Linked DNA regions of Homo sapiens: region 1 is linked to region 2. Evidence: fine-mapped expression QTL. A gene starts in region 2. The other region holds a variant in brackets. All regions are shown on one strand. Distances are between the middles of the regions. Region 1 overlaps TXLNG (taxilin gamma). Region 2 holds the start of TXLNG (taxilin gamma).

Region 1 (4,394 bases), 28 kb before region 2:
AGTTCAAAAACAAGGCAAGCTAATAAATGGTGCTAGAAATCAGGATAGCGGTTACCATTGGGGGTGGGGCCTCCTGGGGTGCTTGTAGTGTTCTATTTCTTGGTCTAGATGAGGTGACACATTCACTTTGTGAAAATTCATTAAGCCTAACATTTATGATTTGTATACTTTTCTCAATTTATGTATTTCAGTAAAGTTTATTTTAAAAGTTGCAATTTATACATTATTCAAGAAGTAAGAGGAACCAAAACAAATATTTTCCTCTAAGAAGAGAGATTAAAGATATGCTGCTTTTCATGACACTTTTAAAATAATGTGCATGTAATACTTTGACATCTTAAAAAAAATTAACACATTAAGGGGAAATGGGTTATCTATTTCAGAGTTATGGTTTGATGCCACACTCTAAGCCTAATTCAGATAGAAAAAACTTACAAATACTGAAACTCTTAAGTTATTTGAAAAGATTTTAAAAATTCACTTCCATATGTATCATATTCTATAGAGCAATGTTTCTCAAGCGTAACCCATAAAGTTTTTCAAAAATTCACAATGGCACGCATCGTGGGGCATGCTTGTAGTCCTAGCTATTTGGGGGCTAAGGCAAGTTTGAGGACAGCCTGGGCAATATAGTGAGACTTCGTCTCTTGGGGTGGGAGAGGATTCACAATCAAGTTTTAGGAAAAATCATTTGTAAGATTTCACTACTGTAGAAACTTCTTAAAATTGTTAATAGGCCGGGCAAGGTGGCTCATGCCTGTAATCCCAGCACTTTGGGAGGCTGAGGTGGGCAAATCACTTGAGGTCAGGAGTTCAAGACCAGCCTGGCCAACATGGTGAAACCCCGTCTCTACTAAAAATACAAAAATTAGCTGGGCAGAGGTTGTACTGAGCCGATATCGCGCCACTGCACTCCAGCCTGGGTGACAAAGCGAGACTCCATCTCAAAAAAAAAAGAAAAAAAAATCATTAATATACCCAAATAACATACTATAGCAGTATTATTATTAACAGAACAGATGCAAAGTGATAATTCAATGCTACATTTCACATGTAACTACTAGTTTCGCCTCTAATCAAATATTGAAATGTCATGTACTAATTGGGCGCATAGATATATAAAGAGACCCTTTACACAAAAGCAATAGAAAGGGAAAAAGTGAGTACTATCAATACCATTTTCCCCAATTAAAAAAAAAAAATTTCGGACAGGCGCAGTGGCTCACGCCTGTAATCCCAGCACTTTGGGAGACCGAGACGAGACGGGCAGATCACAAGGTTAGGAGTTCAAGACGAGCCTGACCAACGTGGTGAAACCCCACCTCTACTAAAAATACAAAAATTAGCCAGGCGTGGTGGAGCATGCCTGTAATCCCAGCTACTCGGGAGGCTGGGGCAGGAGAATCGCTTGAACCCGGGAAGCGGAGGTTGCAGTGAGCTGAGATCGCACCACTGTACTCCAGCCTGGGTGACAGAGCGAGACTCCGTCTCAAAAAAAATAATAATAGTTTCAAATCTATTCCCTGAAAACCATTAGGTATAAGAATGGCACTACAGGCCGGTCGCGGTGGCTCACGCCTGTAATCCCAGCACTTTGGGAGGCTGAGGCAGGCGGATCACCTGAGGTCAGGAGTTTGAGACCAGCCTGATCAACATGGTGAAGTCCCGTCTCTACTAAAAATACAAATTTAACTGGGCGTGGTGGTGCATTCCTGTAATCCCAGCTACTCGGGAGGCTGAGGCAGGAGAATTGCTTGAACCTGGGAGGCGGAGGTTGCCGTGAGCCTAGATCACGCCATTGCACTCCAGCCTGGGCGACAGAGCAAGACTCCATCTCAACAACAACAACAAAAACAAACAAACGAGAATAGAAGACTGCTTATCTCTAACACAGAATTTCTCAGACACTTAATGATAATAAAACCCACACAATCCCAGAAAATATGGTGTCAAGCCGTATCAAAAATACAGTGAGCATGAAATTCGTAGAAAAAAGGGGAAGCATAAATAATTTTCACCAAGAAAACCCTGAGGCCTGTCCTAACCCTGAGGCTACTTGAGGAATGAGATTGGTTCATTTGTAGTTTTTCAGTTCCATTAGCGATTTATTTTGTAACACCTTTATTGTGATATAATTCACATACCATACAATTCCCTAACTTAAAGTGTACAGTTCACTAATTTTACTGCATTCACAAAGTTGTGCAAACATTACCACAGTCAA[C/T]TTTGCAACACTTTCATAACCTGAAAATGAAACCCAGTTCTCCTTAGCTATCAACCCTTAATGCTTCTATAACCTTCAGCACCAGGCCACTAATCTAGTTGCTGCCTCTATGGATTTGGCTATTCTAGACACACTTCATATAAATGGAGCTATACAATATGTGGCCTTTTGAGTCTGCCTATTTTTTCTTTTGAGATGGAGTCTCACTCTGTCACCCAGGCTGGAGTGCAATGGCACGGTCTCCGCTCACTGCAACCTCCGCCTCCCGGGTTCAAGCGATTCTCCTGCCTCAGCCTCCCAAGTAGCTGGGATTACGGGCACCCGCAACCATGCCCGGCTAATTTTTTGTATTTTTAGTAGAGACAGGGTTTCACCATGTTGGCCAGGCTGGTCACGAACTCCTGACCTTAGGTGATCCACCTACCTTGGCCTCCCAAAGTGCTGGGTTTACAGGTGTGAACCACCACACCGGGCTGAGTCTGCCTATTTGCATGTGGCAAATTTTCAAGATTCCTCCATGTTATAGCATGTATCAGTATTCCATGCATGTAGCTGAATAATATCCCTTATACAGAGAGACTACATTGTATTTATCCATTCATCAGATGGACATGTGGGTTATTTCCAATTTTTGGCTACACTGTATTTATCCATTCATCAGATGGACATGTGGGTTATTTCCAATTTTTGGCTATTATGACTATTTCTTTTTATTTTTTTTGAGATGGAGTCTCGCTCTGTCGCCCAGGCTGGAGTGCAGTGGCGTGATCTTGGCTCACTGCAATCTCCATCTCCCGGGTTCACGCCATTCTCCTGCCTCAGCCTCCCGAGTAGCTGGGACTACAGGTGCCCGCCACCACGCCCAGCTAATTTTTTGTGTTTTTAGTAGAGACGGGGTTTCACCGTGTTAGCCAGGATGGTCTCGATCTCCTGACCTTATGATCCGACCACCTCGGCCTCCCAAAGTGCTGGGATTACAGGCGTGAGCCACGGCGCCCGGCCAATTATGACTATTTCTGCTATGAACATTAATGCATTCATTTTTGTGTGGACACTTCTCCAGGGTACAGTCCTAGGAGTGGAATTGCTATATGACCACTCTATGTTGAACCTTTTGAGGAACTGTAAGACTATTTTCCCAAGCAACTGTACTTTTTTTTTTTTTTTTTGGAGACGAGGTCTCGCTTTGTTGCCCAGACTGCACAATGCAAGCTTACTGCAGCCTCAACCTCCTGGGCTCAAAGCATCTTCTCGCCTCAGCCTCCCAAAGTGCTGAGATTACAGGTATGTGCCACTATGCCAGGCTCATTTTTTTTTTTTTAATTTTGTAGAGGGAGAGTCTCGCTATGTTGCCCAGGCTGGTCTCAAAACTTCTGGGCTCAAGCAATCCTCTTGCTTCAGTCTCCCAGGGCACTAGGATTACAGGCGTGAGCCACCACGCGCAGCTCACTGGTACCATTTAAAATTCCCACTAGAAGTGTATGGGGGTTCCAATTTCTCCACATCCTCAGCAACACTTGTTATTATTATTTTTTTATAGCCATCCTACTGAGTGTGATGGTACCTCACTGTGTTTTTGATTTGCATTTCCCTAATGACTAACAATATTGAACATCTTTTCACGTGCCTATTGGCCATTTGTATACCTTCTTTGAAGAATGTTTTTCAGATCTTTTGCCCATGTTTAATTGGGTTGTTATTTTATCGTTGGACTGTAAGAGTTCTTTATGTAACTAGCTACAAGTCCCTTACCAGATATATTTTTCAGATGACTTCATGGTTACCTCAACTTGGAAGAAAGGAATAGGACTGGCGCAGTAGCTCATACCTGTAATCCCAGCAGTTTGGGAGGTTGAGGTGGGCAGATCACCTGAGGTCAGGAGTTCGAGACTAGCCTGATCAACATGGAGAAACACCGCCTCTACTAAAAATACAAAATTAGCCAGGCGTGGTGATGCAAGCCTGTAATCCTAGCTACTAGGGAGGCTGAGGCAGGAGAATCACTAGAACCTGCGAGGCAGAGGTTGTGGTGAGCCGAGATCACACCATTGTACTCCAGCCTGGGCATAAGAGCGAAACTCCACCTCAAAAAAAAAAAAAAAAAAAAAAAAAAAAGGCTGGCCGCAGTGGCTCATGCCTGTAATCCCAGAACTTTGGGAGGCCAAGGCCA
Region 2 (4,394 bases):
GAAGATGCAGTGAGCCAAGATTGCATCACTGCACTGCAGCCTGGGTAACAGAGCAAGACTCTGACTCAAAAAAAAAAAAAAAAAACACAACAAGTTTGTTTGTTTTTTTAAGAGACAGGGTCTCACTCTGCGGCCCAGGCTAGCCTCCTGCTTCAGTCTCCTGACTAGGTGGTACTACAGGTGCATGCCACCATAGCTGGCTTAAAAATGATTCTTGCAAACACAAGATAATTCACCCAATTTGTTAAATGAAAATTCAAAGATTAATATTTTACCATGTATTTGAATGCCGTCACTGTCAGTTAGAAATCAAAAAGAAAAAGATGCTCAGAAGAGCATAAGCAAAGAAGAATGGAGTATGAGGTACATAAACAAAAATGAGTAGACACACACATGACTATTCCTATCCAGCTGTTAACCAGAGCTCTGCACCTCAAAGGGTCATTACCTCCTATCTTGGTTATTTTAAATGCTAGTTGATTAAACCTCAGTTCCTAATTCAACGACTTTTTGTCCTTATCCCAGTGTCATAAAAGGGAACTTATATCCTCAATTGCAGTGGCTTTTTATCAGAGTCCTCCTCCCCTGGGGAACCTACGAAATCAAACACTGAGATTGGCACTCCACCCTTAGGGAATAAGTGAAGTGTCCAAAGTGATGGTGTTGAATCCCTTACAGGACATTGGTCCACAGCTTCTTTTTCAGTCCTGCAAGCACTGGATCTTTCTTTTAGAATACAAAGAGAGGGAGAGAAAGAAAGAGAGGTAATTGAGAAGTAGTAACACTGTCATGCAGAAACATGAAAATACCTGACCTTAGAAACAGGCCCCAAAAAGCTAATTCTTAACACTCTGCTCAGACGTAAACTGGACCTTTGTTCTCCCATTTGAAGTTTATGAATTGCATTAGAAAAATATTATTTCGTAATTTCATACAGGAGTTAAGAGTGTTCAAATACATAATTAAGTAATATTAAATAGCCCTCGGTGATCAAGCAAGATATCCAACAAGTCGAACGTTTCAGTATGTTCACCTGCAAGGAAAAAAAGAGATGGGGTTCCCACCTTCCCAGTCTCAGTCCCCGCAATTATCCATTCCAGGGCCCCGAAAACCCTGTACCCCGTTCGTTGTGCAATCTTTTTCAAACTCCACCCACTGAGCTCCAGAACAAGTGGAATTGTCCCGTTCTGAAAGAGGTCTCAATTTTCCTGTATCTAGGGAGGGACTGAAAACTCCTTGACGTGAGTCAAGTAAGGCAAGGGGAACAGTCCGGCCTGTTTCCCAGATTAAGAAAGACCCAAGGCCAGGGTCGGGAAGGCATTCAAGTTTCCACTCATCAAATTAAAAAAATAATAAATGAAAGAAAAAAAAGAGGGGAAAAAAGAGGAGGGTGGTAAATAGGACTGGGAGGACCAGCTATCATGCGATATCCCAACTCTGCAGGACCGAGGTCCTCCAGCATCGCCTCCCCATCCATCCCCGGCCCCACGTGCAGCCAAGCCCTCGGAGCCCCGGGGTCTAGGTCCCGGGGGCCGAGCGTCCCGCTCGCACCGGCCCTGCGACACTCACCCGCTCGCCTGCCCGCCCGCGCAGTGGCGGGGAGCGCAGGGGGGCGGGGGAAGGGGGGCCAAGCACACCCCGGCTCCCGCGCGGTTATCTTACTGCGCAACAGCCTAGCCTGAGCAGCCCGGGGGCACCCCGCAGCGCGCCCTGCGCACCTGCCCGACGCCAGGAGGGCGAGCCCACGACCCCAGCGAGCCCCCGGACGGCGGCGCTCAGCGCCGGGAGCACGGTGACGGCGGTGACTGGGAGAAGGAACGCCTGGCGCCCGGATCCCCGCGGTGCTGGCCGCACGTGGCTGTCACACCTGGCGCACCCCCGCCTCGCACCCCTTCTCCCTTAGAACCGCGTGCGCCCCCTGCCCTCCCTCCCGGCTTCCCCGCCGCGCGCCGCCAAACCCCAACCGTCGTCCCTTCCCACCCCATCCATCGCGGTCCCACCCCCCCCCACCTGCTCCCACTGTCGTCACCCCCGGGAGGGAAGAAGACCGGATGTTCGTCCCGTGGCTATAGGTAACCAGGGAGAGAGAAGAGGTGGACCCTGAAAAAGGGAGCCCAAACATCCCCCGGGCCCGACAACAACGAGGGCGTCCCCCTGACTGACCTTCTGCCGCGGGCTGCGTCGCCGTCCGCCCCGTCCGGCCTCAGTCGCCTCTTCGGCGCCGCCGCCTCTTCCCCGCGCTGCCTCCTCTACCCGCGTCGCCATGAGGTGACGGCAGCAGCCAAACAAGCGGCCCGACAAGGGGCACAGAATCTCGCAGGGCCTTTCGCCCCGCCCCCGAGCCCCCACGACCAATCGCCGCATGTGAGACTTCCCACGTGACCGGAGGAGGTTGGCCCCCGAGGGGACGGAGCGAGATGGGGATGGGGAGCATTGAATACTGGGCTGGGCTTCAGCAAGACCGAAGGGCAGATAGAGGCCGTGTGAGTCTGCGCGGATCGGGAATGGGACTCGGGAGTGGACTACAAGTCCCAGCAGGGCGTGCGGCCACAGCTCGCAGGCTCGGATCGGGATTGGGACATAAGGCGGCGTTCTGAAAAGGGGAGAGTGCTGCACCCAGTGTGCTTCGTGTGCATCCTAGTGGGACTTGCGGTTTCTGGGGGCGATGTCTGGCTATAGGAAGGTACTCGTTATGATCTTTCGCGGAAAGTTTAGAAATATCCCCGTGTTTGAGAAGGAGCACGATCGGCGACACATTCTTGTGTTTTTGTTTTTGTTGCCGTTCTTAGGAATTGGGCGCGAATGATTTGGGGATAAGGGAAAATACTTCACGACTTTCAAGACGGAAGGTGTATTGGCTCTTAGAATTTGAAGTTTCGTGCTCGGGCACCTGCCCCGAGCCCTGCCCCTCCACCAGAGTTGTTACCACGGTTTACTTGTCCCGAGCTCCCGCGGGATAGGTGCCGCATTCTATTCACCTTGGTTGAACCGCCCCGGCTTCTGCACACTTACTTGGCACTTCATTCATGTTGAATGTATCCTGCTTTCTCCCACCCCATTTACTCGTTTCATTACCTAAATTTTTTCAACAAACTCGGTTTGCTGAACCGAATTTTTTTTTTTATTGATATGATGTTGGGGGGGAGAGGGGAGATTTCCTCAGGAATATTCCCTATTTCCATCTGATGGAACCAGATCTCCAATGGCCGAGCTTCTGAAAGGCACAGACCATCATGAAATCCTGATATATTGTCTTAAATAATTCATTATGAGGCCGGGCGCGGTGGCTCACGCCTGTAATGCCAACACCTTGGGGGACCGAGGCGGGTGGATCACAAGGTCAGGAGTTCCAGACCAGCCTGGCCAACACAGTGAAACTCCGTCTCTACTAAAAATACAAAAATTAGCCGGGCATGGTGGTGGTGGTGGGCTTTTCTTTTTTCTTTGTTTTTGTTTTCCCAAGACGGAGTCTTGCTGTCACCCAAAGCTGGAGTGCAGTGGCACGATCTCAGCTCACTGCAACCTCCGCCTCCCAGGTTCAAGCAATTCTCCTGCCTCAGCCTCCCGAGTAGCTGGGATTGCAGGCACGTGCCACCACGCTGGGCTAATTTTTGTATTTTTAGTAGAGAGAGGGGTTTCACCATGTTGGCCAGGCTGGTCTTGAACTTCTGACCCCCTGATCTGCCCTCCTCGGCCTCCCAAAGTGCTGGGATTACAGGTGTGAGCAACCGCCCCCAGCCGGTGGTGGGCTTCTGTAATTCCAGCTATTTGGGATCTGAGACAGGAGAATCGCTTGAACCCGGGCAGCAGAGGTTGCAGTGAGCCAAGATCGTGCCATTGAACACTCCAGCCTGGGTGAGGAGAAACTCCATCACACACACACACACAAAAGTAAGTTATTCCTCAAAAAAAAATTTTTTTTTAGAGATGGGGCATTATGTTGCCCAGGCTGGTTTCAAATTTCATGATTTTCTATATTGTTTAAGTATGTATGGAATGAAAAAAATCAATAAAGTTATCTTTATTAAGGAAAGAGGCCGGCCACGGTGGCTCACGCCTGTAACCCCGGCACTTTGGGAGGCCGAGGCGGGCGGATCACCTGAGGTCAGAAGTTCAAGACCAGCCTGACCAACGTGGTGAAACCCGGTCTGTGCTAAAAATAGAATTAGCCAGGCGTGGTGACACGTGCCTGCAATCCCAGCTACTAGGGAGGCTGAGGCAGGAGAATCGCTTGAACCCGGGAGGCGGAGGTTGCAGTAAGCCGGGATCACGCCATTGCACTCTAGCCTGGGCAACAAGAGCGAGACTCCGTCTCAAAAAATAAAAAGAAAAGAAAAGAACTATGCCATTAACCCCAAGCCTTCAGAGAAATGAAAAATATTTAATTGAATTAA

Evidence for each region. PIP is the estimated chance that this variant, and not a neighbour inherited with it, causes the effect.
Region 1: its variant is the best candidate, but not a certain one, in a credible set for the expression of TXLNG in whole blood (TOPMed, PIP 0.72).

Annotation. Positions count from the first base shown.
Region 1 is chrX:16,812,637-16,817,030 of GRCh38, reverse strand. All of the region lies in intron 1 of TXLNG (taxilin gamma), which reads right to left. Among named protein-coding and RNA genes, the nearest start is that of TXLNG, 28 kb to the right of the region's middle. The variant C/T (reference allele first, on the strand shown) is at 2,225.
Region 2 is chrX:16,784,359-16,788,752 of GRCh38, reverse strand. It overlaps TXLNG (taxilin gamma), which reads right to left and starts at 2,287. Exons shown (of 10, transcript NM_018360.3): 1 at 2,164-2,287. The coding sequence starts at 2,265. LOC124905250 (a long non-coding RNA gene) reads left to right here and starts at 2,487. Exons shown (of 2, transcript XR_007068398.1): 1 at 2,487-2,683; 2 at 2,790-3,093. RefSeq lists a silencer at 1,502-1,941 and enhancers at 1,988-2,720, 2,692-2,891.